4 linked regions of the Homo sapiens genome follow. The protein of the gene in region 1 binds, or shares a complex with, the protein of each later gene. Each region holds a gene or a part of one and is shown on either strand. Other genes may lie near its edges. The genes, in order: SUMO2, UBE2I, ZNF451 and ATF7IP. A codon is read from its position in the direction of its gene.

Region 1 (7,280 bases):
TACTTGAAAGATCAGTGAAGATAAAAACTTCCTTTAGGCCTGATGCAGTGGCTCATATCTGTAATCCCAGCACTTTGGGAGACTGAGGCAGGTGGCAGTTGACATCAGCCTGGCCACCATGGCAAAATCCCATTTCTACTAAAAATCCAAAAAAATTAGCTGGGCGTGGTGTTACACGCGCATAATCCCACCTACTCCGGAGGCTGAGGCTGAGAATCCCTTGAACCTGGGAGGTGGAGGCTGCAGTGAGCCAAGATCACACCACTGCACTCTAGCCTGGGTGACAGAGCGAGAGCATTTCAAAGGAAAAAAAAAAAAAAACTTTAGAATGTTTGAAGTATTTTTATGCCTAGTGTATTTACAATGTAATAAGAAAATACTGTGCTCATAATTGATATGTAAACCTTCTTGTATGTAGTTCCTTATAAAGATACCTTTTTTTTTTTTTTTTTTGAGACAGAGTCTCGCTCTGTTGTCCAGGATGGAGTGCAGTAGTGCAATCTCGACTCACTGCAACTTCTGCCTCCCGAGACCAAGCGATTCTCCTGTCTCAGTCTCCCGAGTAGGTGGGACTACGGGCGCACGCCACCACGCCCAGCTAATTTTTGTATTGTCAGCAAGATGGGGTTTCACCATATTGGTCAGACTGGTCTTGAGCTCCTGACCTCAGGTGATCCACCTGCCTCATCCTCCCAAAGTGCTGGGATTACAGGCGTGAGCCACTGTGCCCAGCAAGATACCATATACTCTTATTTGAAGAATTTTGCTGAAATCACCCTACATGAACTTATGAATTGTGTTAAATAATTTATAAACTGGCATCTTCTATATTTGAACACTAGTGCCCCTTCAGGATACAGGGGAATTTTAAAAGGTAATCCTTTTGGAGAACTTCTTTAGCAAAACTGCATACAAAATAGAAAATCATAGGCTGGGCGTGGTAATCCAGCACTTTGGGAGGCCAAGGCTGGAAGACCAGTCTGGACAACATAGTAAGACCTCATCTGGTTTTTTTGTTTTGTTTTGAGGTGGAGTTTTGCTCTTATTGCCCAGGCTAGAGTGCAGTGGCGCAATCTCGGCTCACTGCATCCTCCGCCTTCCAGTTTTAAGCGATTCTTCTGCCTCAGCCTCCCAAGTCACTGGGATTACAGGACCTCGTGAACCACCCGCCTCAGCCTCCCAAAGTGCTGGGTTTACAGGCATGAGCCACTGCGCCTGGCCCAGACCTCATCTCTTAAAAAAAAATTAGGTGGTTGTGGTGGCACATACCTGTAGTCCAGGCTATTTCAGTGACAGAGGTGGGAGGATTGCTTGAGCTTGGCAGGTCTAGGCTGCAGTGAGCCATGATCTCATCGCTGCACTCCAGTGTGGGTGACAGAATGAGACCCTGTCTCAAAACCACAAACAAACAGAATCATGCTTCAGTTTGGTGGTTTTGAACAGTATTCTTTTCTTTTTTTTTTTTTTTTTTGAGAGTCTCGCACTGTTGCCCAGGCTGGAGTGCAGTGGCACCATCTCGGCTCACTGCAACCTCTGCCTCCTGGGTTCAAGCGATTCTCCTGCCTCAGCCTCCCAAGTAGCTGGGACTACAGGTGCGTGCCACCGTGCCCAGCCAATTTTTGTATTTTTTGTAGAGACGGGGTTTCACAATATTGGCCAGGATGATCTCGATCTCTTGACCTCGTGATCCGCCTGCTTCGGCCTCCCAAAGTGCTGGGATTACAGGTGTGAGCCACTGGTGCCTGGCCTTGAACACTATTCTTATGCATATCTTATTTAACTTTTCTGCAATTGCAAAATTTTGCCTTTTTTTTTTTGAGACAGGCTTTTGCCCTGTTGCCCATGCTGAAGTGCAGTGGGAGGATTATGATCATGGCTCACTGCATCCTCTGCCTCCCAGGCTCAAGCAGTCCTCCCACCTCAGGCTCCCAGGTAGTTGGGACTATAGGCTTGTGCCACTGGGCGATTCTTTTTTTTTTTTTTTTTTTTTTTGAGACGGAGTCTCGCTTTGTCGGTCAGACTGGAGTGTAGTGACATAATCTCGGCTCACTGCAACCTCCACCTCCCGGGTTCAAGCAATTCTCCTGCCTCAGCCTCCTGAGTAGGTGGGATTATAGGCACCTACCACCGTGCTCGGCTAATTTATTTTTCGTAGAAACGGGGTTTTACCACGTTGGCCAGGCTGGTCTTGAACTCCTGAGCTCAGGTGACCCACCCGTCTCGCCACCTCGGCCTCCCAAAGTGCTGGGATTACAGGCATGAAGCACTACGCCTGGCTTTTCTTTTCTTTTTTTTTTTTAAGATGGAGTTTTCCTCTTGTTACTGAGGCTGAATGCAATGGCGCAATCTAGGCTTACTGGAACCTCCGCCTCCCAGGTTCCAGTGATTCTCCTGCCTCAGCCTCACAAGTAGCTGGGATTACAGGCATGCACCACCACGCCTGGCTAATTTTGTATTTTTAGTAGAGACGGGGCTTCACCATGTTGATCAGGTTGGCTGCTCTGAAACTCCTGACCTCAGGTAATCCACCTGCCTTGGCCTTCCAAAATGTTGGGATTATAGGCGTGAGCCACTGCACCTGGCCACCATGCAAATTTTTTAATTTCTTTTTTTTTGAGATGGAGTCTTGCTCTGTTGCCCAGGCTGGAGTGCAGTGGCATGATCTCAGCTCACTGCAACCTCTGCTCCTGGGTTCAAGCAATTCTCCTGCCTCAGCCTCTTGAATAACTGGGATTACAGCGCCTGCCACCTAGCCTGGCTAATTTTTTGTATTTTTATTTATTTAATTAATTAATTTTTTTTTTTTTTTGAGACAAGAGTCTCGCTCTTGCAATGGCACGATCTCGGCTCATTGCAACCTCCACCTCCCGGGTTCATGCAATTTTCCCCCCTCAACCTCCGGCTGGAGTAGCTGGGACTACAGGTGTGTGCCATTGTGCTCAGCCAATTTTTGTGTTTTTAGTAGAGACGGGGTTTCACCATGTTGGACAGGCTGGTCTCGAACTCCTGACCTCAGGTGATCTTCCACCTCAGTCTCCCAAGGTGCTAGGATTACAGGCGTGAGCCACAATACTTGGCCTTTGTTTTTAAGTAGATGATGGTTATATACTGTTTTTCATCCCTTTTATGCCACTGATACTTACTGAGCAGCACCTACTATGTGCAAGGGATAGACTGTGTAACTAAAACAGTCTAGGTTCCTATATCTCCTGAAGTGTGTTTTTTAGTAAGACAGTAAGTAATTACAGATTTGGGTAAGTATTAAAGGAAATTAAAAAGCGGTGCTTTTTTAAAGCTATTCCAGGAAGTTCAAGGGTGTAGGTTGGGGCATTTTAGGTCGGTTTTGTTGTTGTTGTTGTTGTTTTTGATATTGAATCTGGTCTGTCACCCAGGCTGGAGTGCTAGGGCACGATCTTGGCTCACTGCAAACTCCGCCTCCCAGGTTCAAGCGATCCTCCTGCCTCAGCCTCCCGAATAGCTGGGATTACAGGCGGATGCCACCACACTCGGCTAATTTTTGTATTTTCAGTAGAGGCGGGGTTTCACCATATTGGCCAGGCTGATCTTGAACTCCAGACCTCAGATGATCTGCCTTGGTCTCCTAAAGTGTTGGAATTACAGTGTGAGCCCCCGAGCTCAGACTGGAGTCTTTAAATGGGCATTTTTTTCCTTTAAATTTCCTGTTAGTGGCCAGCCAGGCGGATCACGAGGTCAGGAAATTGAGACCATCCTGGCTAACACGGTGAAACCCCATCTCTACTAAAATACAAAAAATTAGCCCAGCATGGTGGCATGAGCCTGTAGTCCCAGCTACTGAGGAGGCTGAGGCAGGAAAGTCACTTGAACTCCGGTGGTGGAGGTTGCGTTGAACTGAGATTGTTCCACTCACTCCAGCCTGGGCGACAGAGCGAGACTCCATTTAAAAAAAAAAAATTTCATTTCCTTGTCTAACTCATTTAAATGCATATTTGTCTCAAGGTATGTTCTATTTAACATTATAGTAGCTGTGTCTGAAAAGCAGTAAAGCTTTCTAAAAGAATGACTTACTGGCTGGGCGCAGTGGCTCACACCTGTAATCCCAGCGTTTTGTGAGGCTGAGGTGAGTGGATCACTTGAGGTCAGGAGTTCGAGATCAGTCTGGCCAACATGGTGAAACCCTGTCTCTACTAAAAACACAAAAATTAGCTGGGCATGATGGCAAGCGCCTGTAATCCCAGCTACTCGGGAGGCTGAGGCAGGAGAACCACTCGAACCCAGGAGGCGGAGGTTGCAGTGAGCCAAGATCGCACCACTGCACTCCAGCCTGGGCGACATAGCAAAACTCTGTCTTAACAAACAAACAAAAACAACAACAACAAACAGGCCGGGCACAGTGTCTTATGCCTGTAATCCCAGCACTTTGGGAGGCTGAGGTGGTCAGATCATCTGAGGTCAGGAGTTCGAGACCAGCCTGGCCAACATGGCGAAACCCTGTTTCTACTAAAAAATACAAAAATTAGCCAGGCATGGTGGCGCCTGCCTAGTCCCAGCTAATCAGGAGGCTGAGGCAGGAAAATTGCTTGAACCCAAAAGGTGGAGGTTGCAGTGAGCCGAGATCGCGACACTGCCCTCCAGCCTGAGTGACAGAGCAAGACTCTGTCTCAAAAAAAAAAGAAAAGGAAAAAAAATACTACATCTTACTGTTCACTGAAAATGAGAGGCTGGGCACCATGGCTCACTCCTGTAATCCCAGCACTTTGGGAGGCTGAGGCGGACGGAGCACCTGAGGTTAGGAGTTCGAGACCAGCCTGGCCAACCTGATGAAACCCAGTCTCTACTAAAACTACAAAAATTAGCCGGTTGTTGTGGCGGGGGACCGTAGTCCCAGCTACTCTTGGGAGGCTAAGGCAGAAGAATCGCTTGAACCAGGAGGTGTAGGTTGCCTTGAGCTGAGATCACGCCACTGCACTTCAGCCTTGACAACAGATCAAAACTGTCTCAAAAAAAAGAAAATGAAAATCACCCCAAATCTTTTTACCTATAGGGTATGTTAACATGTTGGCAATTGTTTATTTAGGTATTTCTTTAATATATTCATGGTTAAATATGCATGTACTTTTATGTAAATAGAATTCTGTTTCTCTTAATGCTGTTTATTGCTTTTAAATTCTCGTTCAGGGATTGTCAATGAGGCAGATCAGATTCCGATTTGACGGGCAACCAATCAATGAAACAGACACACCTGCACAGGTAAAAAAATCTCTCCTAATTAGAAAAATTACCATTTGTAATTCTTTGAACAGCTGTGTTTATGAATTTGAACGTTTAGACACTGGAGTATAAGTTCTTGTAGAGTTCAGAGCTTTGGGAAGTATGACCAGAGGGGAACAGAAAGGAAAATAGGAATAGGCTCAGGAAATGCCAATGGTTTTTATTCATTTATTTTTAATTTTCATTTTAATTATTTTTTTAGGGACAGGGCCTCTCTGTTGCCCGGGTTGAAGTGTAGTGGCCTCATTATAGCTCACTGCAGCCTTGGCCTCCCAAAGTGATGGGATTATAGGCACGAATCAATGTGCCCAACCCCACCAGTGGTTTGTGTTTGTTTTTTGTGACGGAATCTCACTCCATCGCCCAGGCTTGAGTACAGTGTCACGATCTTGGGTCATGGCAGCCCTCGCCTGCCATGCTTAAGCAATTCTCCTGCCTCAGCCTCCCAGAGTAGCTGGGATTACAGGCATGCACCACCATGCCTGGCTAATTTTTGTATTTTTGGTAGGGATGGGGTTTCACCATGTTGGCCAGGCTGGTCTTGAACTGCTGACCACAAGTAATCCGCCCGCCTTGGCCTCCCAAAGTGTTGGGATTGACAGGTGTGAGCCACCGCACCCAGCCAAATCCTCACCATTTTAGTTCTACATGCTGAATTGAAATTCTCTTTTACGTGTCTTCATGAACAAAAAGGAACTAATAGCCCTAATTGCCACGTCCCATAGCTTTGTTTGACAGGGAGAGCCCCTGATAATAGGAGATTTTCCAGATCCTTACTACAAAACGTGATGCTCTCTGATCCTTTAACTCTTTATGTACCACTTCATTTTGTTCTGTCACTTTCTGTAGGATCAGCTGGATTGTCTTCTGTGGCAGAAGCTCTTTGTTTCTTTTTACCCTTTCAAAGTTCCATTAAATACTTCCAGTTTTGTCCTAGCAGGGTGGCTCATGAGAGCCATTTTCAAGATTACAAAGTGCTTGTAATGCCAGCACTGTGACGCCAAGGTGGGCGGAGCACTTGAGTCCAGGATTTCAAGACCAGCCTGGGCAACATGGCAAAACCCTCTCTTTACAAAAAAATACAAAAATTAGCCAGGGAGCAGTGGTACGTGCCTGTAGTACCAGCTACTTCTTAGGGTGAGGTGGAAGGATTGCTTGAGCCCAGGAAGTGGAGGCTGCCGTCACCCAAGATGGTACCACTGCACACCAGCCTGGGTGACAAAGTGAGGCCCTCTCTCAAAAAAAAAAAAAAATGACTTCCAGTCTTGTCCTGACTTGGTGGCTCACACCTGTAGTCCTATCACTTTAGGAAACTGACACTGGCAGGAGGGTTGCTTGAGGCCAGGAGTTTAAGACCAGTCTGGGCAATATAGCAAGACCTGGTCTCTACAGGAAAGAAAAAGAGCTGGGCATGGTAGCATGTGTCTGTAGTCCCAGCTTCTTGGGAAGTTTAGTGGGAGGGGTGCTTGAGTCCAGGAGTTTCAGGCCGCAGTGAGTTATGATCATACTACTGCACTCCAGCCTGGGCGATAGAGCAAAACTCTGTCTCAAAAATAGAAGACTTACAGTTTCTGAAACATATTTTACAATGTTGTGATAGTAGAAATTTAAATTGGATCCCATGTACTTTTGAATTTCAACTTTATCACCCAGTAAAAACTAGAAAGTGATAAATGTGGCATGAAGCAGCACATCCAGATTGTAGTTTTGTTGATAATCTTTGAAAATTGGAAAAGCCCCTGAGTTGTACTGAAAAGAAGAATATTTTGAAGACATTTCAACTGGTGACAGTCTCTCAAAAGGAATTACGGGCCAGGTGCACTTGTTCACACCTGTCATCCTAGCACTTCAGGAGGCTGAGGCAGGCAGATTGCTTGAGGTCAGGAGTTTGAGACCAGCCTGGACAATATGGTGAAACCCCGTGTCTGCCAAAAAATACAAAAATTAGCCAGGCATCGCCGGGCGCAGTGGCTCATGCCTGTGATCCCAGCACTTTGGGAGGCCGAGGTGGGCGGATCACCTGAGGTTGG
Region 2 (7,280 bases), on another chromosome or scaffold:
AGTGGTCGGTAGGAGCGAGTGTTCGGGGAAGCTGTAGGTGTTCGTGGCGCGTTGGCTTTCTGGTAATTCCTCCGGCTGCACTAGACATGCCGCACTGTGTGTCCTTCCGTAGCATTGAGAGAGAAGAGGGAGGATGCCCAGGTAAAAGATGGGAAATAGCCTAGAATATCAACTGTGATGGTCCCTGGTGGGGCTAATGGTGGCAAACTTTTCTGCTTTTTTGTAAAGAAATAACACAGGGTCCTAAAAGCCCGTATATCCTGGAAGCAGAGGGTCTGCGTCGGAACAGCCGACTCTGGAAGGGCGTTGGCTATGTCCCTGGACGTCTCCTGCAGCTCCTCCCATCTCCCCTGAGTCTGGCCCAGCTGGAAAGGATGTGGGGGCCACAGGTTAAGTGGCCACCCTGGGGCCTGTGTTCCCAGACTGCCTGGCTGTGCTGGGAGTTCTGTCCTGGGAGAGACACAGCTTCGTCTCGGCTGCGGCCGTGTCCCCAAGGCTCTGTTCCCTGTGTGCAAAGGTGGATATGTCTTCCTTTAGTCTCCTCATGGCCACAATTTAATTTTTTTGAAAAGTTTTTGGCCAAATAACCTGGCTACCAACCCGGGGCCCCAGTGTTGGGAGGAGGGTGATGTGGGGAAGGACGTGACTCTGGGACAGTGCCTGCCTCCAAAAAGTGCTTCCTTTCTTCCTCTTCCTCCAGGTAAATTCGAACCACCATTATTTCACCCGAATGTGTACCCTTCGGGGACAGTGTGCCTGTCCATCTTAGAGGAGGACAAGGACTGGAGGCCAGCCATCACAATCAAACAGGTACGGGGCCTCCGCCTCTGGCACCGGCAGGGCTGCCTTAGTCTCCCCTCCGGACACGTGGGTCTGTGGTCATTCTCTGTGGCTGAGGCCGAGTCTCACGGTGTCTCCCTTTCAAACTGCTCACACCCGTCTTGTGTTTTTGTCTCTGGCACAGATCCTATTAGGAATACAGGAACTTCTAAATGAACCAAATATCCAAGACCCAGCTCAAGCAGAGGCCTACACGATTTACTGGTTAGTAGCAGCCCTGGCCCCGCTGGTGGCAGCTCCTCCCCGTCCCAGCCAAGGCCGCCTGGCAGGACGGGAGTGGAGGACACAGGCTCACCCTACGGACAGCCAGGGTCCACGCCTCTGTGGGGAAGGTCGGGGGGCATAAACCCTGTGGGCAGCAGGCACCGTTGCACACCGTCTGCGGTGGGCATGGATGGCGCCGGAGCCGTGTCCCGGGGAGGGAGCAGGCCAGGTGACGGGCTGTCTTGGGCCACTGCCCCAGTGAGTTGTGGCCAGCTAGGAGGGGAAGGACCCTGGGCGTGGGTGCCAGAGGAGGCCATGCTGAGAGGCCTCTCCACCGGCTCAGCCTCCCATGGACCCCAGCCTCCCGCGCCGCCCTTGCTGCTTGTCCCCATCCCCTCTACAACTTGGTTCCTTCTGTGGGGGGGCCCAGCCCAGCAGGGCTCAGTGACGTGATGCTGTCACACGGACCCTGGGCTTCCACCCTGTCCCTGTGAGGTGCTGCTGTGGCTAGAAGGGTCCCCGTGGGCCTGGGGTCCTGTCTGCACCGAGGAGGGCCTGGTGTGAGTTAGGATGCAGACGACAGCCAAACAGTGCTGGGGAAAGCAGGGAGGACCCTGCCCTGAGCAGAGGCCATGCGCCCGCCTGTCCTGTTCCCTCTGCAGCTGTTCTGGGCAGGTCCATAAGAAGGTGGGTTGGGGCCTCCGACCCCCCACTGCTCCGCCTGCAGCGTTGAGAAACCCAGCCCCATCTCACCACGGGTCCCCACACCTCTGAGGGGGTCTCAGGGCCCCCAATGGCCAGGGACCCAGAAGGCTCACCTGCAGCCACCCCACACATCCCTGCCACTGTGGGCATCAGAGGCCCTCTCCCTCCAGGGTGCATCTCCTGGTCAGGAGGGGGGAGGCTGAGGGGTCCCGGTTGCCTTAGGCCCGGCCTGCACAGGTCGTGAGGAAAAGCACCTGGTTTCGGCCGGGCGCAGTGGCTCACGCTTGTAATCCCAGCACTTTGGGAGGCCGAGGTGGGTGAATCATGCGGTCAGGAGTTCGAGACCAGCCTGGCCAACATGGCGAAACCCTCGTCCCTACTAAAAATACAAAAAATTAGTTGGGCGTAGTGGTGGGTGCCTCTAATCCCAGCTACCTGGGAGGCTGAGACAGGAGAATCACTTGAACCCGGGAGGCGGAAGTTGCAGTGAGCCGAGATCCTGCCACTGCTCTCCAGCCTGGCGACGGAGGAATGCTGTCTCAAAAAAAAAAAAAGCACGTGGTTTTGGAGAGATGTGTTTCTCCCTGGATGCGGGCCCAGCCCAGGTGTCTGCAAGGTGCCCTCCCTGGTGGCCGAGGGTGGCACAGAGGCCCCAGGCAGGGAGCAAGTATCACAGCAGCCACCCCAGGCTCAGCCTGGCTCCCCTGCATGGTGGTGCACACCTGTAGTCCCAGCTATTTGGGAGGCTGAGGTGGGAGGACTGCTTGAGCCCAGGAGGTTGATGCGCAGTGAGTTGAGATTGCAGCACCGCAATCCAGCCTGCTTGACAAAGCGAGACCCTGTCTCAAAAAAAAAAAAAAACTCATAGCCGCTCAGTCAGCCAAGCCATTGCTGGAAGTGGCTCGTGGGACGTGGCGTGACCTGGGTTTGTGTGCTGGCCTGCTGTGCCCTAGGAGTCCGTGAAATGCATTCCCTTGGACAGGAAGCCACAGTGCTCGTGGGTGTCCACATGGCCCTTGAGGCAGAAAATGTTTTCTTTTTTTTTTTTTTTTTTTTTTTTAAACAGAGTCTCACTCTGTCGCCCAGGCTGGAGTGCAGTGGTGTGATCTCAGCTCACTACAACCTCTGCCTCCTGGGTTCAAGTGATTCTCCTGCCTCAGCCTCCCAAGTAGCTGGGATTACAGGCACCCACCACCACACCTGACTAATTTTTGTATTTTTAGTAAAGACAGTGTTTCACCACGTTGGCCAGGCTGGTCTCGAACTTCTGACCTCAGGTGATCCACCCGCCTCGCCTCCCAAAGTGCCGGGATTATAGGCATGAGCCACCGTGCCTGGAAAATGATTTCTAGGCCAAGTGTGGTGGCCCAACACCTGTAATCTCAACACTTTGGGAGGCCAAGGTGGGCTGATTGCTTGAACTCAGGAGTTCATGACTAGACTGGGCAACATAGCGAGACCCTATCTCTACAAAAAATTAAAAAATTTGCCAGGGGTGGTGGCTCATGCCTGTAATCCCAGCACTTTGCAAGGCCACTGTGGGACGTTACCTGAGCCCAGGAGTTGGAGACCAGCCTGGGCCACATGGCAAGACCTGCTCTCTTTAAAAAAAAAAAAAAAAAAAAAATTAAGCCGGGGATGATGGTGCATGCCTGTAGTCCCAGCTATTTGGGAGGCTGAGGTGGGAGGACTGCTTGAGCCCAGGTGGTTGATGCTGCAGTGAGCCAAGATTGCAGCCTGGGTGACAAAGTGAGACCCTGTCTCAAAAAAAAAAAAAAAAGCATGCCGGGCGCGGTGGCTCACGCCTGTAATCCCAGCACTTTGGGAGGCCAAGGTGGGCAGATCACGAGGTCAGGAGATTGAGACCATCCTGGCTAACACGGTGAAACCCCATCTCTAGTAAAAATAAAAAAAATTAGCCGGGCGTGGTGGCGCACACCTGTAACCCCAGCTACTCGGGAGGCTGAGGCAGGAGAATGGCTTGAACCTGGGAGGCGGAGCTTACAGTGAGCCGAGATCACGCCACTGCACTCCAGCCTGGGCAACAGAGCCAGACTCTGTCTCAAAAAAACAAAACAAAAGGCAAATGTTTTCCTGCCTAGCCCTTAGATGGTCTGCCATCCCCAGCATGGTGTGGGCGTGAGCTCTGTCTGGCCTGCACCCCATTTGCCGACCATCTCCAGAGCTGGGCTGTGGCTCCCATCTGCGGCGTGGGCTGGGCAGGGTTGCAGTCCCCCGCCCCGTGTGACTCTCCCCAGCGTCTCCTGGGCTTGGTGCCTGCTGGGCTGCACTGTACACTTGCGTGCACGTAAACAAACGTTCTTTCTCCTACACACATCCGCTTGAAAAGCACCCTTTGTGAAGCATGTGTGCGGGTTTCAGATCGTTTTTCCTGGGTTTCCTGGAGGCCTTGGACCGTGTTCCTGCCCTGGCAGGTGCCTTTTCTCGGGGCCTCTGCTTGGTCAAGGAAGAGCTGGGACGTGTAGCCACCGCCTCTGGTTCCTTCCACGCCCACCCAGCTGAGCTGCTCTGCCCTGGGGCCGGCTGGTGGCCCAAGGAGGGCGCTGGGGTCTGGGCTGCGGTCCAGGCCCTTGGCGTGGGTGGGGGTGGCACCGGCGCTGCTGCCGTCCTGGGCTGTTCCACCATGCAGAGTGAGGCTCAGTGTCTCAGACCAGGTCCAATCCTGGCGAGACTGGCAGGACTGCGACCCCAGGAGCCACCTCCATAAATGTCATGGTGTTCCCCCATCCTCAGGGTCACACTGCACCCTGTGACCCATCAGCCCCTAGGTGCAGCCTCGGCCGCCCTCCCGCCCACCTGTTTTGCCCGGGCAGTGTGTGCCATGCCACTCTCCTGGGCAGCTGCTTGCAGGCTGAGCCTCACTCTACCCAGCTCCAGACCTGTTCGCTGATGCCCCTGCACTGCCCAGCTCGGGCACAACGCCTTCTCAACCAGGCCTGCCTTCCCACACCTTTGCCCCTGCGGCTGAGAGCCTCATGGAAAAACCCTCCAGAAATTGGTGTCTATTTTTGGGAATTAACAAAAACAGTGGCAAGCAGTCAGTGTTTTCAGTTTATTAGGACTGTCCCCAGACCTACAGAAAAGAGAAGCTGCTGATTACTAGTTAGGACCAGACTTGGCATCGGCAACGATGTTGCAGGCCCTGGCGTGGGCCCTCTGGGCCTGAGCCCTCCTCGCAGCCCTGCGGGACCCCTCTGTCCCCCTTGAACACCACGTTCACCCAGCGTGGGTTCCTCTCCTCCCTGCCCTTCTGCCCCCGTCAGACCACGGGACAGTCTCAGCCACGTCAGAGCCAGCATGGGCTCCCCACCACGCAGGCCTCCCTGCTTCTCCGGGCTTCTGCTTCTGTTACTATGACGAGCTCCACACTGCCCTCCCCCAGGAGGTCCCATCCTGCAGCCTGGTCTGCCCAGCTGGCTCCGGGGCGAGCGTGAGGGCCAGGCAGCTCAGCCCTCTAACACGTCTCTTCTCTTTTGACCTCCTCAGCCAAAACAGAGTGGAGTACGAGAAAAGGGTCCGAGCACAAGCCAAGAAGTTTGCGCCCTCATAAGCAGCGACCTTGTGGCATCGTCAAAAGGAAGGGATTGGTTTGGCAAGAACTTGTTTACAACATTTTTGCAAATCTAAAGTTGCTCCATACAATGACTAGTCACCTGGGGGGGTTGGGCGGGCGCCATCTTCCATTGCCGCCGCGGGTGTGCGGTCTCGATTCGCTGAATTGCCCGTTTCCATACAGGGTCTCTTCCTTCGGTCTTTTGTATTTTTGATTGTTATGTAAAACTCGCTTTTATTTTAATATTGATGTCAGTATTTCAACTGCTGTAAAATTATAAACTTTTATACTTGGGTAAGTCCCCCAGGGGCGAGTTCCTCGCTCTGGGATGCAGGCATGCTTCTCACCGTGCAGAGCTGCACTTGGCCTCAGCTGGCTGTATGGAAATGCACCCTCCCTCCTGCCGCTCCTCTCTAGAACCTTCTAGAACCTGGGCTGTGCTGCTTTTGAGCCTCAGACCCCAGGTCAGCATCTCGGTTCTGCGCCACTTCCTTTGTGTTTATATGGCGTTTTGTCTGTGTTGCTGTTTAGAGTAAATAAACTGTTTATATAAAGGTTTTGGTTGCATTATTATCATTGAAAGTGAGAGGAGGCGGCCTCCCAGTGCCCGGCCCTCCCCACCCACCTGCAGCCCCACCGCGGGCCAGGACCAGGCTCTCCATCTGCTTCGGATGCACGCAGGCTGTGAGGCTCTGTCTTGCCCTGGATCTTTGTAAACAGGGCTGTGTACAAAGTGCTGCTGAGGTTTCTGTGCTCCCCGCATCTGCGGGCTGTAGAGCGCTGGGCAGCTAAGATCTGCATAGGTCGGGATTGGCATCGAGACCCTGGCAACTGCACCGGTGCCAGCTGTCTTGGGGGCCACAAGGCCAGGTCCAGACCAGGGCTGGGGGCTGCCTGAGGACTCCTATCCGGGCAGCCTGCTGGCGGGGGTTCCCCTCTTCAGTGGCCAGGTCACAGGGATGGAGCTGCGCTGTGCATAGGGTGCCACCTCAGGTGTCTGTCCCTTGTGTCCTCAGGAGGCAGCCTTGCTACCACCCGTGGCAAACGCCAGGTGCTTTTTCTGGGAGAGCCCACAGCCGTGGCCCTCCAGGGCTTCCCCGACCCTTAGCGCCAGGTAGAGGGCCCTGGGCAGCCTGTGTCTGGAATTCTTCGTCCTGAGGCCACCTGAGTGTGGTCTGTCCTGGGGAGGCTGTGCGCCTCAGCAGCCGTCCTGACGCTGAGCCCTCTGCAAAGGTTGGGCCGGCCAGGCCTCTTGGGGCTGCCTGAGCCACTGCAGGAAGTGGCCTGGCTGGGAAGTTGGGTGCCGGTCACCTCCCAGCAGGAAGGCACAGTGGACAGAGATGGGAAGCCCTGGGGGACACAGCCCGGTGCTCCCAGCCCTCCAACCTCTGGCTCCCAACCCAGTCTCCCCATCCTAGCGAGCTTGGCCCTCCTCAGTTTCGTTTCAAGCCTTGGGGCTGGAGCTGGCCCTGCTGCCCTGGCACCCCCCGGTGGCTGGAGCTGGGTCCCCGTGGCCCAAGTGCAGGGTCCCAAGAGGGCAGGGCGGGGCTCCCCAAAGGAGCAAAGAATGCAGGGAGGGCGGTCCAGGGCCCTGGGAAGGGGAGCTCGGCACCCTCCAGGTCCGTGTGGGACTCCAGCCGCTGTTGGCTGGGAATCGAAGTTAGAGGTGACTTCCAAAGGCCCCCCGAGCCGGCAGTGCCCCCCACCACCCCTCCAGCGACTCTGCGGTGCCAGTGCCTTGTTGGCTTTTCCGGCTACGCACCCTGCAGTCACTGAGCTCTCGGTCTGACGTCTGATGTTTGTGGTTTGTTTATAACACGGGGCCTTACCTGGGGAATTCAGCTGGTTTGAATATTTGTAGCCCGCTCCCAGAATGTCTTATTTTGTAATGACTGAACTACATTTAGTAATAGTTACACATGTATATGGTTAATACATATGGAAATTCAATATATTT
Region 3 (7,280 bases), on another chromosome or scaffold:
GTGATAGTTCACAGTGCTGTTCTAGATATGAAGGTATACAAACTGCTGAGGGAACCTATCGTAATTTTGCTAACAAAACAATACAAGAGATTCAGGTTTCAGCCAAGATTATTGATATAGTGTAGCATCATTGGAAGTCAGTGAAATCAGGATATAATTTCCTAAATAGCTTCAGTACCACATAGATCAAGTATTAATACTTTAGCTGCAGAAGGGAGTCAGGCAGAAAATAGTATTATTTGGCTGGGTGTCTTGGGGCTGTGATTGGTTTAATAAATAAAAAGTGTTGAAGCTCATAATATGCAAAGCCGTGAGTTAAGTTCCTTAGAGCTACAAGGATTAATTTGAAATACATCCTACCCTTAAGGGTCAGTATTTTAGTGTGAATGATGAGATAGGAGGTGAGAAGTATGTAAATAGTCCTTAGAGGTAGTAGAAAGTTCTCTTACAGAAAGTACATAGTGCTGTTAAAAAAGGACATAAGACTTGCAGTTTATCATAGTAGTAGTTAGTAGTAGTAATAAGTAGTAGTTAGGATTTATATGTGTTTAAAAGGGCATTTTGAGTAGAAGAAACAAGGAAAGGCATCAGAATGGGAAAGCAGAGAGGATTATGTGTAGTCGTGAAAGATTTTTTGTTGTTTTTTAAGGTGGGAGGAGGCGGCATGGGCCAGGTAGTATAGATCTTGAATGTTGGATTAAATTTGAACTATAAAACAGGCACAATTGGAAACTATTTGAAATGTTGCCTGTCAGGACTGCACAAGTAACCTGTGTCCCTGACTTCTCTATATGGGGGGAAAAATGAATTATTTAGGGTTTCAGATTTATGCTCAAATCCATATTCTTTGTTTTAGAGAAAACTTTGGTTGTAGTAAACTACCTTTTTAGTAGACCATATTTTGGTGTATTGATATCTCTTTCCAATTAGTAGGAAATTGGTGTTTTGGCTTAGAGAATCAGTTTTCTCATAACAGGAATGAAAGCTTTTTATTTCATGAAACATATTTTAAAACTTAGAATATTGGTTTAACTGTTTTCCTAAACTGTTTTGCCATGCTTCTACATGTGCTTCTGCCCCTAAATTGTGTGGTATTGGGAATAGAATTCTTTAATTTTTAAATTTTATTTTTATTTAATTTTTTATTTCTATTTCAGAGACAGGGTCTCACTCTTGCCCAGGCTGGAGTGCAGTGGTATGATCATAGCTTACTGCAGTTTTAAACTTGTGGGTTCAAGCAACCCTCCCTCCCCAGCCTTCCGAGTAGCTGGGACTACAGGTGCACTCCACCATGCCCTGCTTAGAATCCTTTATTTTTTGTTAGTGGTGCAATAGGGCATGAGAATGATGGTTTACTAGTTGATGGATAGAACAAATGCAAATAAAAATACCTTGTAATTACAGGACCATACGCAGTTATAGTTGTTAAAGATATAAGTAGTAATTATAAATATTATACCAAATTATTTTTTCTTGATATTTTTATTATAAACATAACTTCTTTTGAGAAATTGGTAATTTATTTTTGGTCAGTGTTACAAAGTATTCACAGATGGGGTAATAGAGGTAGTCCATTTTCTCTTAAGGAAGAAAAAATGTGTTATTTCAGGAACTCAGGTAATAAACATTGATTTAAAAATAGTATTTATGTTTTGAACTACCTCACAATTATAGTGCCTGTACAGCCAGTTGTGTTTAGAGAACCAAGTATACCCCACTCAGTTTTCCCATCTGTTAAATGGGATAATACTGATAATTCAATATCTCACCTTGTAAAGTAATTTGGGGGATTAAGTGAAATGTACATTAAAAGCTTTGCACAAGGCATGGTACAGGGCTCAATAAATGTTATTGATTCTTAGTCAAATAAATGGAGTACTAAATGTTTTACTTCCGTAAGCTCATTATCATGGAAGTTTTTCCATATTCACTGAAAATTAGCTAGTGTACACTATTTGTGTATAAGTAATCTTTTCCTTTGGGGTACATGTCTGTCCTTATTTTTCCACTCAATCTCTTTGCCATTTTAGTGATTTTCAACATGATTCCCCTTCTCATTCTACTCTGTCACTTAAAGCTCAGTAATTATTTGTTGAATGTATAAATATTCTAAATGACTTCTGTTTTTTCTCAATTTTGGATTTTCTGTGATACTTTTTTTTTTTTTTTTTTTTTTTAAAGAGATAGGGTCTCAGTCTTGCTTAGGCTGGAGTGCAGTGGCGTAATCATAGCTCACTGCAGCCTTGAACTCCTAGGCTCAAGCAATTCTGCTGCCTCAGCCTCCCAAATAGCTGGGACTACAGGCACGCACTACTGTACCCAGCTAATTTATTTTATTTTTGTAGAGATGAGGTCTCACTGTTCTGTCCAGGATGGTGTCAAACTCCTGGACTCAAGTGATCCTCCGTCATCGGCCTCCCAAAGTGCTGGGATTATAGGCGTGATCTACCACGCTCGTCTGGATTTTCTATCCATATTTTCCTTTTTTTCTTTTCTCTTAGTGTGAATCATATAAAATTATTGTTCTTCAGTAGTTGAAAAATGTTTGCATATTGGTTTAATGGTTCACTGCAAGAATAAATTTCTGATAACCTTATTTGTCCTTACTCCTTCCCTTTAAATATTACTGCAGCTTTTTTTTTTTGTTGTTGTTGTTGTTGTTGTTGTTGAGACAAGAGTCCCTCTCTGTTGCCCAGGCTGGAGTGCACTGGCGTGATCTCAGCTCTCTGCAACTTCTGCCTCCTGGGCTAAAGCGATTCTTGTTCTTCGGCCTCCTGAGTAGCTGGGATTACAGATGTACACCACCACGCCCAGCTAATTTTTGTATTTTTAATAGAGACAGAGTTTTGCCATGTTGGCCCAGATGGTCTCGAACTCATGGCCTCATGTGGTCCACCTGCCTTGGCCTCCCAAAGTGCTGAGATTACAGGCATGAGCCATCCTGCCTGCAGCTATTTTTAAATTATGTTTTTGATCATTTTCTTTCTTCCTTTCTTTCTTTCTGTTTTTTTTTTTTTTTTTTTTTTTTTGAGATGGAGTTTCGCTCTTGTCACCCAGGCTGGAGTGCAGTGGGACAGTCTTGGCTCACTGCAACCTCTGCCTCCCGGGTTCAAGCAATTCTCCTGCCTCAGTCTCCTGAGTAGCTGGAATTAGAGGCGCCCACCACCATGCCTGGCTAATTTTTTGTATTTTTAGTGGAGACAGGGTTTTACCATGTTGGCCAGGCTGGTCTCAAATTCCTGACCTCAGGCAATTCGCCCACCTTGGTCTCCCAAAGTGCTGGGATTACAGGCATGAGCCACCGTGCCCAGCCTGTTTATCTTATTTTTTTCCAGCCCATTTTACTTTTTACCTTGCATCCTGTCATCTTTCATCTTCTTCTTTACTTTCTGTGCATGGGAACTCTGCCTCTGTGTATTTCTGGTTACCGGGGCGGGGGGGTAGGGGGGCGCTTTTGTGTTCTGCTATTTCTGTGGACCTATAATGAAGGTTCCTAATGCATATTTCTTGTAGAGAGCAAAGTAAGATGATTATATCAATGGGAAAAGCTATCATTTTAATTTTTCTTCTTGGATCGAACATACAATTTTCAGTCTTTTTTTTTTTTTTTTTTTTTTTTTTGTGACAGAGTCTTGCTCTGTTGCCCAGGCTGGAGTGCAGTGGCACCATCTCAGCTCACTGCAGCCTCTGCCTCCTGGGTTCAAGCAATTCATCTGCCTCAGCCTCCTGGGTAGCTGGGACTACAGGTGCCCGCCACTACACCCTATTCCTATTTTTAGTGGAGACAGGGTTTCACCATGTTGGCCAGGCTGGTCTTGAACTCCTGACCTCAAGTCATCTACCCACCTCTGCCTCCCAAGGTGCTGGAATTACAGGTGTGAGCCACCGTGCATGGCCTACATTCTTCATACCAGATGTAGATTTTAAAGTAGGTGATTCAGCTCTGTTTACCATATATTGGAGAGTATTGCTTCCTCTGTTTCTTTAATTTTTACTTCCGTGTTTATAGTTTGAGCAAAAATCTCAATTCCTTTGCTACAGATCCCTGCCCAGTTTTGCCCTCTTGTTTTATCTTGGTATCTGAATTAGTACCCAAAAGATGGCAGTTTCTTGGTTGAGCAGAAGTCATAGCCTAGGGGAGAAAGAAGCTATCTTTGAGACTGGATGCCTATTCTAGGGAAGATCATTACCTAGATCTCAGCTTCTGTCTCCAGCAGTCAACTTTCTACATCCTACAAAATCCTTTCCTCAGCTATTATTTCTTCTGTGTTCCTTTCTTTTGTTTCCAACATACTGGATTTCTCAAAAGAATATGGCCTTTTCTACTGCATTCTCTAGTGTTTTAGAGCCTGGCTTCTGTGCTCACTACTTTCTTGAAAGTTGCTCTCTCAAAGACATTTAAAAATGTCTGGTTGCCACATTCAGTGGCATTTTATTGTTGCCGTGTTTCTGGCCACATTTAACACTGACAGCTTTTTATTGAGGCAATATGATAGTTCAGTTTAGTTCTAGAGTTTAATAGTCTTCTAGGGGAGCAACTCTCAAGTCTTTATTTCCAGGTATGTTCATACTTCCCAGATTACAGGCCTGCATTTCCAGCTGTCTGCTAGATACACCCTGTGTACCACTGTTACTTCAGCCCATAGGAATGTCAGCTTTCTGTTTCTGCTTTCCAAAGTTATACTATTGGCATTACTATTCTTATAGTCACCTGAGGTTAAAAACTTAGAGATCACTGACTCCTTGTTTTGTTTTTTAAATAATCTTTTAAATTTATTTTTATTTATATATTTATTATTATTATTATTATTATTATTGGGATAGTCTTGCTCTGTTGCCCGGGCTGGAGTGCAGTGGCGTGATCTTGGCTCACTGCAACTGCTGCCTCCCAGGTTCAAGCAATTCTCCAGCCTCAGCCTCCTGAGTAGCTGGGACTACAGGCACGCACCACCATGCCTGGCTAATTTGTACATTTTTAGTAGAGATGGAGTTTTACCATGTTGGTCAGGCTGGTCTCGAACTCCAGCCTGGCCAACATGGTAAAACCCCATCTGTACTAAAAGTACACAAATTAGCCAGGCATGGTTCTAACCTCAGGTGATCCCCCACCTTGGCCTCCCAAAGTGGTGGGATTACAGACATGAGCCACCACACCTGGCCTAATAATCAATCTCTTTTAGTTTTCCATTTTACTTGTATTCTCTTGTATATCCACTACCATACTCTTCTTGCCATCACCACCATTAGTTCTGCATTGTCATGTGCCTATACTGATTATCTTGCTTTCCCTGCTCTCCATACTCCTCTATGTGATTGATCTTGAAGCACAGTTCTCATGTTATTGTCTTATTATTATTTTTTATTTTCTTTTGCCTATTGAATAAAATCTAGGCTTTTAAGCCTGACATTCAAGGCCTGGTTGATGAAGAAATTGGCATGGATGGAAAGAAAGAATGGAAAAGAATTCAGGTTTGATGCTTGACTCTGCAGTGGTGGATGATGAAGCTGAGCTATAAGTCAATTCATTTTTGAACTTGGATATATTAACAGACTTTTGATACCAATTCTAGGTGTAAAGCACTGGATTATAATATTTGTGTCTTTGTAGCACTGTTCTTATATTAATTTTCCTTTCCCAAGTAATTGACATGGCCCTAATATTCTACAGGGGTGTAGGTGCTTCCTTTTAGGTCTTGTCATCATTTTACATTTATATATTTTGAATATTTTCCTCTGCTGCTTTTGTTCTGGTTATTTTCTGCTACCCACAAAGCTCCCTCTTCAGAGTAATTCTTGCCAGTCCCAACCAAAAAAAACACTGTAGGTTTAAATGCTAATTTGGTTTGAATAACTGTTAATGACTTCTAAATTTGCTTGATTGTTTATAGGAAGGACCATTACGACCTGTTCTTGAATACATTGATCTGGTCAGCAGTGATGATGAAGAGCCTAGCACCTCTTATACTGATGTAAGTACATTATATTTGATTTGTGTTTCTTCACTTGTGTCTTTTAAGAGGTATTCTCTAAAGAGAGTTACCAAATCAGGGAAGGCTGTGTTTAGAAATAGCCAGTTCTATTAGAATGGGCTAAAATAGGTAGTCCAAGGAGTCCTTTGCCCAGATCTCCTACTTCCAGTTTTTTTCCTCTACTTTGAATGAGATTATGAAAAAAATGATAATATGACTCTGGGAAATTCAGAGCCTTAGAGGTGATATCTGATAAAATGGAAATGGAATAAAAACTGCAAGCTTATTGATTCCTCTTTCCCTTCTCTTTTCCTTTACTCTCCTCAGGTGCCCTATACAACAGGATTCTTTTGTTCCAGAACCACATGACCACAGAAAATTTGTTTTCTCTTAGAAAAAAGGATATGTAGAGATCCTTTTAGGAATGGAAAGTGGGGGAAGGGTTTATAGGGGATATATTACTTCAGTCATCATCCCTTTAACCTTGTCTGTGCCCCACATATTTGGAGTTATTTATCTTACCTGTGATGTACTGGTTGTAGGTTTGACCCTTGGACCAATACTTCCCTTGCTCTGAGAATTGAACTAGTTGAGCCCTTTGTAACAGTCTTGCCTTTCATTTGTCCTTGCTTTAGCCCAAACTTCTGTTAATGAGCTGTTTTCATCTTGGATTAGAAAACTCTTAGTTATTGTTCAGAGTGGCCACAAACTTCTTGCTCTGTGATATAGGGGATTGAGACTTGGACTTGGAATCAGAATACCTGGGTTTGAGTCCCAGCTTTACTCTTTACAAATTCTGTGACTTTGGATAAATTAAGTAACCTTTTAGCCTCCGTTTTTTAATCAAATAATACCTACCTCACAGGGTTGTTGTGAGGATGAAATGAGGTAACAAATTATAACTTCTTATAACTACAAACCATAAAGTAGGACTATACAACTGGGAAGTTTTGTTATTCGTGGACAGTGAATGACAGAATTTTCAGAGGTGCCTAAAATGACTCTAATGGGGGAGTTTTAGATTTTTTTTCTTCTCAGTGGAACTTTCCTTAAGTTCTCTTTGCCATCATTAGCTTCTTGCATATCTTGAGTAGAACTTAACATATCTTGAATGGGATATTTTTTTCTTTTATTCTTATGAGTGGTCTCACACAGGACCAAACAGCAGGCCAGCATAGCACCACGTGATCTGAGCTTGTTTTTACTCTCTCCTTTTTCATAAACAGAGTCCCAGATTAATGCCAGTAGTTGATTTTGGGTCTTTGGGGTAGTGAAGCTTGTGGATTTGACTTCTCTGATTCCTTTTGCTGA
Region 4 (7,613 bases), on another chromosome or scaffold:
TGGCCTCCCAAAGTTCTGGGATCACAGGCATGAGCCACTGCACCCAGCCTAATTTTTGTATTTTTTGTAGAGACTGGTTTTGCCATGTTGTCCAGGCTGGTCTGGAATTTCTAGGCTCAAGTGATTCACCTGCCTCTGCCTCCCAAAGTGCTGGGATTACAGGCATGAGCTGTGCTTGCTCGGGAGGGCTATTTTTATCATCCCCATTTTATAGACTGGGAAACATTTGCGTAGAGAATTTCAGGACACTAAACAAGTAAGAAGTAGAGCCAAGGTTTCAATTCAGGTAGTAAGCCTTCAGAACCTGAAAGCACTAGATTAAGCTTCCTGTTTTATTATTTTGTACTCAGAAACTTCAGTTTTCCATTTCAATGGCTTTTCGGAGTTTATGCTGTTTTTCTTTTTTTTTCTTTGATATGGAGTTTTGCCCTTGTTGCCCAGACTGGAGTGCAATGGCATGATCACAGCTCACTGCAACCTCTGCCTCCTGGGTTCAAGCAAATCTCCTGCCTCAACCTCCCAAGTAGCTGGGATTACAGGCGTGGGACTAATTTTATATTTTTAGTAGATATGGGGTTTCAACATGTTGGTCAGGCTGGTCTCGAACTCCTGACCTCAGGTGGTTCACCTACCTCGGCCTCCCAAAGTGCTGGGATTACAGGTGTGAGCCACCGCGCCCGGCCTATGCTGTTTTTAAAAAGTTCTGTTTTCTTTGTTCAGTTGCTACAACTGAAATGTATTGGTTTATATTTATTATTTTAGTTTAGGTCTTTTTTTTTTTTCTTTTTTTGTGAGACAGGTTCTATGATCCTACTTTACTCTAGCACTTTTTCCTAGGAAAATTATATTTAGCCTGTATCATTTTAGCCTAAATATACCAATAAAAACATAATGGTAGATAAAATATGAAAATCCTTTTGTACTAACTGGTAAGTAGCTGCCCCATCCTACCACACCCTTCATACCACCAAGTCAGGCTCAGTCCCCAGCTGAAGAGCCTCTGGACCTCTTCAAGATCCTACAACTAAAGAATTAACACCTGACAAAATAGGGTGGGGGGAGGGAAGTCTTCAAGCCTGCTTCCATTCTGATTGGTCAGTGATATAGGGATTGATAAATATTTTAAATGTGGTCCTACCTAGAAGTCTTAAGTTCAGCTTTTTTCATTCTTCATTGTTTTTGTATTTTCTGTTATTTTCTAACTTGAATACTTTCTTTTGTACCTAGTCTGACAGCCTAGGTACAAAGTTCTACATCATAAGTCAGGTCAAGTATCACTTCCTCTGTGAAGTTTTCCCATATAGTATGAGGAAGATTTAGGTTCTCTCATTTTAGAATTTTTTTATGCTTAAGACATACCACCAAAATATTAATGATCTCATAATGTTTATCTGTATTTACAACTCTTTCCCCATGAGAAACAGTGTCATTTCCTTTGGGCATCCCCAGTGCCCAGAATAGTTTGTGAGACATTATAAATATTGTATTCATTGAACAAATCAATGAATAGTTGATTAGGTCAACCAGCGGGTTTGCATGGCTGAAGAGACTGTAACTGTGGTTGAGGATATCTGAGGAGATTCGAATCCAATAAAATTGTCTAGTTGGAGTCTTCAGGAGGCAAGTCTAGAATATGAGCATATCTAAGAAAACTGATAAATCTGTGGTTATGCTGAATTATTTTTCCATTTGCTATTAGCATGGATAATCAAGAATAGACTATCATAGGCCAAGCATGGTGGCTCATGCCTGTAATCCCAGCACTTTGGGAGGCTGACGTGGGCAGATTACCTGAGGCCAGGAGTTCGAGACCAGCCTGGCCAATATAGCAAAACCCCATCTCTACTGAAAATACAAAAAATTAGCCGGCCGTGGTAGAGTGTGCCTGTAGTCCCAGCTACTCAGGAAGCTGAGGCAGGAAAATCGCTGAACCTGGGAGGCAGAGGTTGCAGTGAGCTGAGATCGTGCTACTGCACTCCAGCCTGGGCAACAGGGCAAGACTGTCTTAAAAAAAAAAAAAAAAAAAGAAAGAAGGCCAGATGTGGTGGCTCACGCCTTTAATCCCAGCACTTTGGGAGGCCGAGGCGGGTGGATCATGAGGTCAGGAGTTTGAGACCAGCCTGGCCAAGATGGTGAAATCCTGTCTCTACTAAAAACACAAAAATTAGCTGGGCGCGGTGGTGGACGCCTGTAATTTCAGCTACTCAGGAGGCTGAGGCAGGAGAATTGCTTGAACCCGGGATGTGGTGGTTGCAGTGAGCTGAGATCACGCCACTGCATTGTAGCCTGGGCAACAGAGCAAGACTCTGTCTCAAAAAAAAAAAAAAGAATAGACTATTATAAAAATGATTCTTTTTTATATGCTTACAGAAGACATAAAAAGAGAAACATAATGGGCTCTAGTATTCCAATCCAATTTCTCTTATTATTATGGAGTGTAACATTTAATATCAATATTTCTAATTTTCTGAGCATCTACTTATAATTGAGCACTGATGTACTATGAAAATTATAATAAATAAATTATAATTGAGCATCTATAATTTATTGAGTATATGCTAAGGACTGTGCTAATGATGTTACAACATTTAGCGATTAAACAATGCAAATTTAATTGTGTTATATCCCGACTTAAAACCTTTTAAATGATTCCTCATTGCTGTCCCAATGAGGTCCAACTTTTAGGCAAAAAATTAATTAAATCATTTATCATGATAGAGATGACCTCTTCTAGGAAGGCTTTTCTAATTCTCTAGGTCTGGATTAGGTGATATTTCTTTTTTTTTTCTTCGAGATGGAGTCTCACTCTGTTGCCCAGGCTGGAGTGCAGTGGCGTGATCTTGGCTCACTGCAACCTCTGCCTCCCGGGTTCAAGTGATTCTCCTGCTTCAGCCTCCCGAGTAGCTAGGACTACAGGCGCGTGCCACCACGACTAGCTAATTTTTTTTTTTTTGTATTTTTAGTAGAGGCGGGGTTTCACCATGTTACCCAGGATGGTCTCGATCTCCTGACCTCATGGTCTGCCCGCCTCGGCCTCCCAAAGTGCTGGGATTACAGGCGTGAGCCACTGCACCCGGCCCTAGGTGATATTTCTAAAGGCCACCTTATATTTTAAGTAAATTGAATGGTTCCAGTTATAAAAATAAGTATTAACAACCCTATTCTAATTTCTTATTAGTTACAAAAATTTCTTGTTCAGTTTTCTGTCTTCTTCACTAGAGTACAGATTTCTTGAGGACAGGCACCTAACAGATCTACAACACAGTGATTGCTAAATAAATACTGAACCAATACATTCATATAATGAGAAGTTACATAAAAAAACAATAACCACACGGTACCATCTAATATTATTTTCAGGCTATTCTTGCCTTGCAAAACATATGTACTTTTATTCTTTTTTTTTTTTTTTTTTTTTGATAAGGGGTCTTGCTCTGTAGCCCAGGCTGGAGTGCAGTGGTGAGATCTTCGCTCACTGCAATCTCGGCCTCCCAGGTCCCAGTTCAAGCAACTCTCCTGCCTCAGCCTCCTGAGTAGTTGGGATTACAGGCACGCACCACCATGCCTAGCTAATTTTTGTAATTTTAGTAGAGACGGGGTTTCACTATGTTGGCCAGGCTGGTCTTGATCTCCTGACCTCAGGTGATCCACCCCCCCTCAGACTTCCAAAGTGCTGGGATTACAGGCCTGAGCCACGGCACCTGGCCAAAACATATGTACATTTATTCTATCATTTAGTGCTTCCAACCTAGTTCAACTATAGTCATGATTGCCATTATACAGGTGAGAAAACTGAGTAACACACTTATTCCGAGGAACCGGCAAGGAAGCTGCAGTAGTTGAACTTGAACCCAGATCTCTTAACCAGTAAGGCAGTGACTTGTCCACTACCTCCTGTGGAATTCATTAAAGGCCGACTCCCAGCATGAAATTGAATAAATGGGATGAATACAACTTCTGGTGAGAGAGTATGATAAAAAGTGCTTGCTCTGTTACCAAGCAACTGAAAGAAAGTATGTTTTTTTCATTCCTTCATTATTAATACAATTCAAAGTACATTCTGTGAATTTAAAACATAAATGATGAATAAATCAACATACTCCTGGCTTTTATGAAAATCTTTCCCTCTGCTCTTTAAACTCTCACCTACCTCCTTCCTTCTTTCTTTTCTAAGCCTCATAGAGGGCGCTCACAAAGTGCTACTTATTGATTGAGGAAGATCCACTCAAAAAACACACCTCACACTGCAACTGAGAGACGCAGCGCCACCACCTCGGGCTTCCTTCTCTTTTCCACGCAGGAGGCGGGGCCAATGTCCCTCATTCAAATAAAAAACCAGAATTTGCATGGGGAATGGCTAGTCCTTGAGCTTATTGGCTGATAGCACAGTGGGCGGGGTACATAGCACGACCCCCCGGAGCCCCGCCCATATTAATTTGCATAACGGCCCCGGCGCGTGCAAGGGAGAAGCGGGTTTGTTTTTGAATCTGCGGAGGCGGCGGCGGTGGCAGCGGCGGCGCGGCGACTGAAGCGCGCGAAAAGCTGAGGCGGCAACGTCGGGGACGGCTGCGCGGGACGGCTCTGTAGGAAGGAACTTGGTTCCCCCTCCCTCAGCTTCCGCCCCAAAAGGTATATGTGAATCCCAGGGGCTGTTAAAACCACATTTTCTTAAATTACTATTGTATTTCTGAAGAGTCAAGACCGCATTATGGCGGCTGCGGGAGTTGTGTCTGCGCCTGCGCGGTTGCGGAGCTGCGGGCGGCGCTGCATGGGAGCACGTGATCTTGCGGGGTCGGGCTCTAGCTGCAGTTGTGCAGCTGGCGGGGCGGTGGCTGCGCAAGCGCAATATTCATTTTCAAGATCTAATGTTCTTGTTGGACGCCATTTGGGTTCTAGATTTAATTTTCCTCGTTCTTGAGGGGTTTCTTTGTGTTAACCTTAAATTCTCACAATTTTCAAGAAAAACATTACTCTAATGTTGTACTCCTGGGCCGACCTCAAGCTCTTCTCTGTTTTTTCGATTTTTTGAAAAATTGTGGACTTAATTTTCTGTAAAAATGATTTTCATTTGTGGTTCTTGATTATAATTTCAGTTTTAAAGTATTACTGGATTCAGGTTTATATTTACGGTGGTAAAGATCAGCACCTAGTGGTGTTCTCACGGGAAGTGCATTTATTTGAACTGCATATTTGCAAATACATTTTTAACCCTATTTTTACCTGTTCTGTTATGGATGTGTGGAATGTTTACAAAACAGAAACAATTTTAGTTTTGGGAATATTGGGGGAACGGGAATAGTGGAAGAAATTACAGTATAATCGAAAATGAAATCTCAATCTGAGGATTATTTTGGTTTTAAATGTTTGATCCTAAGTAAATAAAGTTTTAATTTTAATCAGTTTGTATGTTTCTGGGCATTTGAATTTTACATGTTTTAAGTTTCTTAGGTGACTTGTTCATTACTGCTTCAGCTAGATTATTGTTACTTTTGAAATTAATCAACTCATTTTCTTAGCATTTTTGTTTGCTATGATATGTAAGCTATAACATTTATTTGGTAAATTTTTCTGATGAAGAATTCTAGAAAGAACATCCATTACCCTGAGGCCTCTTTGAAGAAAGTGGACCATTAATAAAAAAAATCTGTTTTTTTCTTTTAAACACTGTACTGTATGCATGTGTGTAAGATACAGTTGTGTTTGATTTTTTAATTGTAAGTGTGCTCCTGGTTTTATTAATAGTTTTTTAGGGAAGGTAATTATAAATATGCTACTGATTAGTTTAAAATGGTAGTGTCAACTATAGTTAAATCTTATGTAACACAATTGGGGGAAGTTATATAAGATTTGATATGATTCTCCCGTTGTGCAAATTCTTTCTTACTAAGCAAAGAAACTTGCAAATGTTTTCCATAGACTTCATTTGTGGTTCATATATACAACAACTGGTTTCTTGGTTGGTTATAACTCTTTAAGTTTGAATCAGTCTACTGTCAAATGAAGACGTGCCTCTTGCTTTATAATCTCGGTTAATTTAGGGAAATTTTTATTGCCTAAAACAAATACCATTAGTAAATATTACCTAGATGTAATTGAAAGTAATACTTTTGGTTGGTGGATTTTTAAATGACGTCACATATGAGATAGAATGGAGGTAGGAAAGATTCTTCTTTTTTTCTCAAGAGAATATTTGACCTGATGTAATTCTTGGATCTCTGAGGTCTTCTACACAGAAGTATATTTAGAGAGCAGTTGTGTAATTTTCTCCCTTTTATGTTTCTGGAGTGGTTACCTAGCAGCCCCTTTCTACCACATGCTATTTCAGGCATTTTCGAGTTGAACATACACATAAATATTTCGGTTAACAAAAGAACTTTGATCTTTGATCTTAGGGCATGGTACACTTTACATTTCCAGAAAAATGAAATAGTTTGGTGTATATAAGCGTATGTTTTCATTTGAATATACAGATGATTGCTTTTTAGGTTAATATTGAAGGTAGTAAGAGGTATTTGAAAATGCTCTTGAATATGAAGAACATATTTATTGATGGGACGATTTTGCTGTCATGTTTCTTACAAGGCAGATATAATCATGTAAACTTAATAAGATTAATTAATTGCCTGAACACCAACTATTTGTTTATTAGTACTTTGTCAATAACAAGTATATTTTAAAATTTTAGTTTGGTGGTTATGATGCCACAAAATTTTGACACATATCCAACATATATAAATATTAAGACTAGGTTACTCCAGGAATGAATACCAAGTTACTGAAGTTATTTAAAATCTTTGTAGTTTTGTAAATTTAAAAATTTATATGTAGTTTAGAAAAGACAGGTTTGAGTTATTAAACAATTAGAACTATTTTTTCTTTAAATTAGGTTTTGCATATGTGATAAATGTATTTAAATATTTTTAAACTTATTCATTATAGAACATTTGGAAAATATTGAAAATTAATTAACAATGCTTAGAAATAACCACTCTAAAGGTATTGGTGATTTGTGACTTCACTTTTCCATGATTGAGCAATCTATAAATGTTTATTAATTAGTTTTTCATTGGTACCATAATTTCATTTCTACTCTTTTAATGTTATGAGTATTTTCCCATTTCATTATTCTTCTAAAATATGTCTTTAAATGGTTGCATGATACTTTATTATAATATCCCACATGATCAAATGTTCTTTTTAAACACATTTTAAAATGGTTACATATTATTGTTATCTCTAAGAAGAATTTACTGTGATTTATTAAACCTTTCATTTTTTGTTTCCTGTTTTGCTTTTTGCTCATTTCTCTATTAAAAATAATGCTACAGTGAACGTTCTTGTACTATACCTCAGAATATTTCTTTGAAATTACTTTCAAAGGACTTTTAAAGTAATTTGCAAAATTGATAAAAACTTTTTTTTGAAAAGCATTTTTTATCATATTCAATACCACCATCAATTAGATGGGTGAAAAATAGTAGCTCATTAACTTTTTTTGATAACTAGTGAAGTTGAATTTGTTATTGTTTTATATATGCATTTTTTTCATTTTCTGTGAATTAGCTGTTTGACTTTTTGTGTATTTTTCTATGATGAGTGTTACTGTTTTTCTT

The links.
Region 2: the proteins of SUMO2 (region 1) and UBE2I are in contact, whole or in part, in a crystal structure (PDB 5D2M), measured with the Homo sapiens proteins. Residues at the interface, in NP_008868.3 of Homo sapiens: Gln25, Asp26, Gly27, Arg56 (codon at 5,170), Gln57 (codon at 5,173), Ile58 (codon at 5,176), Arg61 (codon at 5,185), Phe87, Gln88, Gln89, Gln90, Thr91, Gly92, Gly93; in NP_003336.1 of Homo sapiens: Asp19, Asn85 (codon at 730), Cys93 (codon at 754), Leu94 (codon at 757), Ser95 (codon at 760), Ile96 (codon at 763), Asp102 (codon at 781), Arg104 (codon at 787), Ile107 (codon at 796), Lys110 (codon at 805), Gln111 (codon at 808), Leu114 (codon at 971), Gly115 (codon at 974), Glu118 (codon at 983), Leu119 (codon at 986), Glu122 (codon at 995), Asn124 (codon at 1,001), Asp127 (codon at 1,010), Pro128 (codon at 1,013), Ala129 (codon at 1,016).
Region 3: the proteins of SUMO2 (region 1) and ZNF451 are in contact, whole or in part, in a crystal structure (PDB 5D2M), measured with the Homo sapiens proteins. Residues at the interface, in NP_008868.3 of Homo sapiens: Asn19, Ala23, Gly24, Gly27, Ser28, Val29, Val30, Gln31, Phe32, Lys33, Ile34, Lys35, Lys42, Leu43, Ala46, Arg50, Gln51; in NP_001026794.1 of Homo sapiens: Asp30, Ile31, Gln32, Phe33, Val34, Ser35, Glu36 (codon at 5,889), Gly37 (codon at 5,892), Pro38 (codon at 5,895), Leu39 (codon at 5,898).
Region 4: the proteins of SUMO2 (region 1) and ATF7IP are in contact, whole or in part, in an NMR structure (PDB 2RPQ), measured with the Homo sapiens proteins. Residues at the interface, in NP_008868.3 of Homo sapiens: Met1, Ala2, Asp3, Glu4, Asn14, Asn15, His17, Val30, Gln31, Phe32, Lys33, Ile34, Lys35, His37, Thr38, Pro39, Lys42, Ala46, Arg50; in NP_001375109.1 of Homo sapiens: Gly965, Val966, Ile967, Asp968, Leu969, Thr970, Met971, Asp972, Asp973, Glu974, Glu975.

What each region holds. Positions count from the first base shown.
Region 1 is NC_000017.11:75,172,701-75,179,980, reverse strand, and holds part of SUMO2 (small ubiquitin-related modifier 2 isoform a precursor), read left to right. Parts: intron 1-5,157; coding exon 5,158-5,229; intron 5,230-7,280. UniProt on the Homo sapiens protein: Ubiquitin-like protein that can be covalently attached to proteins as a monomer or as a lysine-linked polymer.
Region 2 is NC_000016.10:1,319,474-1,326,753, forward strand, and holds part of UBE2I (SUMO-conjugating enzyme UBC9), read left to right. Parts: intron 1-700; coding exon 701-810; intron 811-964; coding exon 965-1,044; coding exon of another isoform or gene 1,045-1,186; exon of another isoform or gene 1,187-5,256; coding exon 5,257-5,320; 3' UTR 5,321-7,280. UniProt on the Homo sapiens protein: Accepts the ubiquitin-like proteins SUMO1, SUMO2, SUMO3, SUMO4 and SUMO1P1/SUMO5 from the UBLE1A-UBLE1B E1 complex and catalyzes their covalent attachment to other proteins with the help of an E3 ligase such as RANBP2, CBX4 and ZNF451.
Region 3 is NC_000006.12:57,093,173-57,100,452, forward strand, and holds part of ZNF451 (E3 SUMO-protein ligase ZNF451), read left to right. Parts: intron 1-5,888; coding exon 5,889-5,969; intron 5,970-7,280. UniProt on the Homo sapiens protein: E3 SUMO-protein ligase; has a preference for SUMO2 and SUMO3 and facilitates UBE2I/UBC9-mediated sumoylation of target proteins. Plays a role in protein SUMO2 modification in response to stress caused by DNA damage and by proteasome inhibitors (in vitro).
Region 4 is NC_000012.12:14,361,199-14,368,811, forward strand, and holds the start of ATF7IP (activating transcription factor 7-interacting protein 1), read left to right. Parts: upstream 1-4,483; 5' UTR 4,484-4,629; exon of another isoform or gene 4,630-5,992; intron 5,993-7,613. UniProt on the Homo sapiens protein: Recruiter that couples transcriptional factors to general transcription apparatus and thereby modulates transcription regulation and chromatin formation. Can both act as an activator or a repressor depending on the context.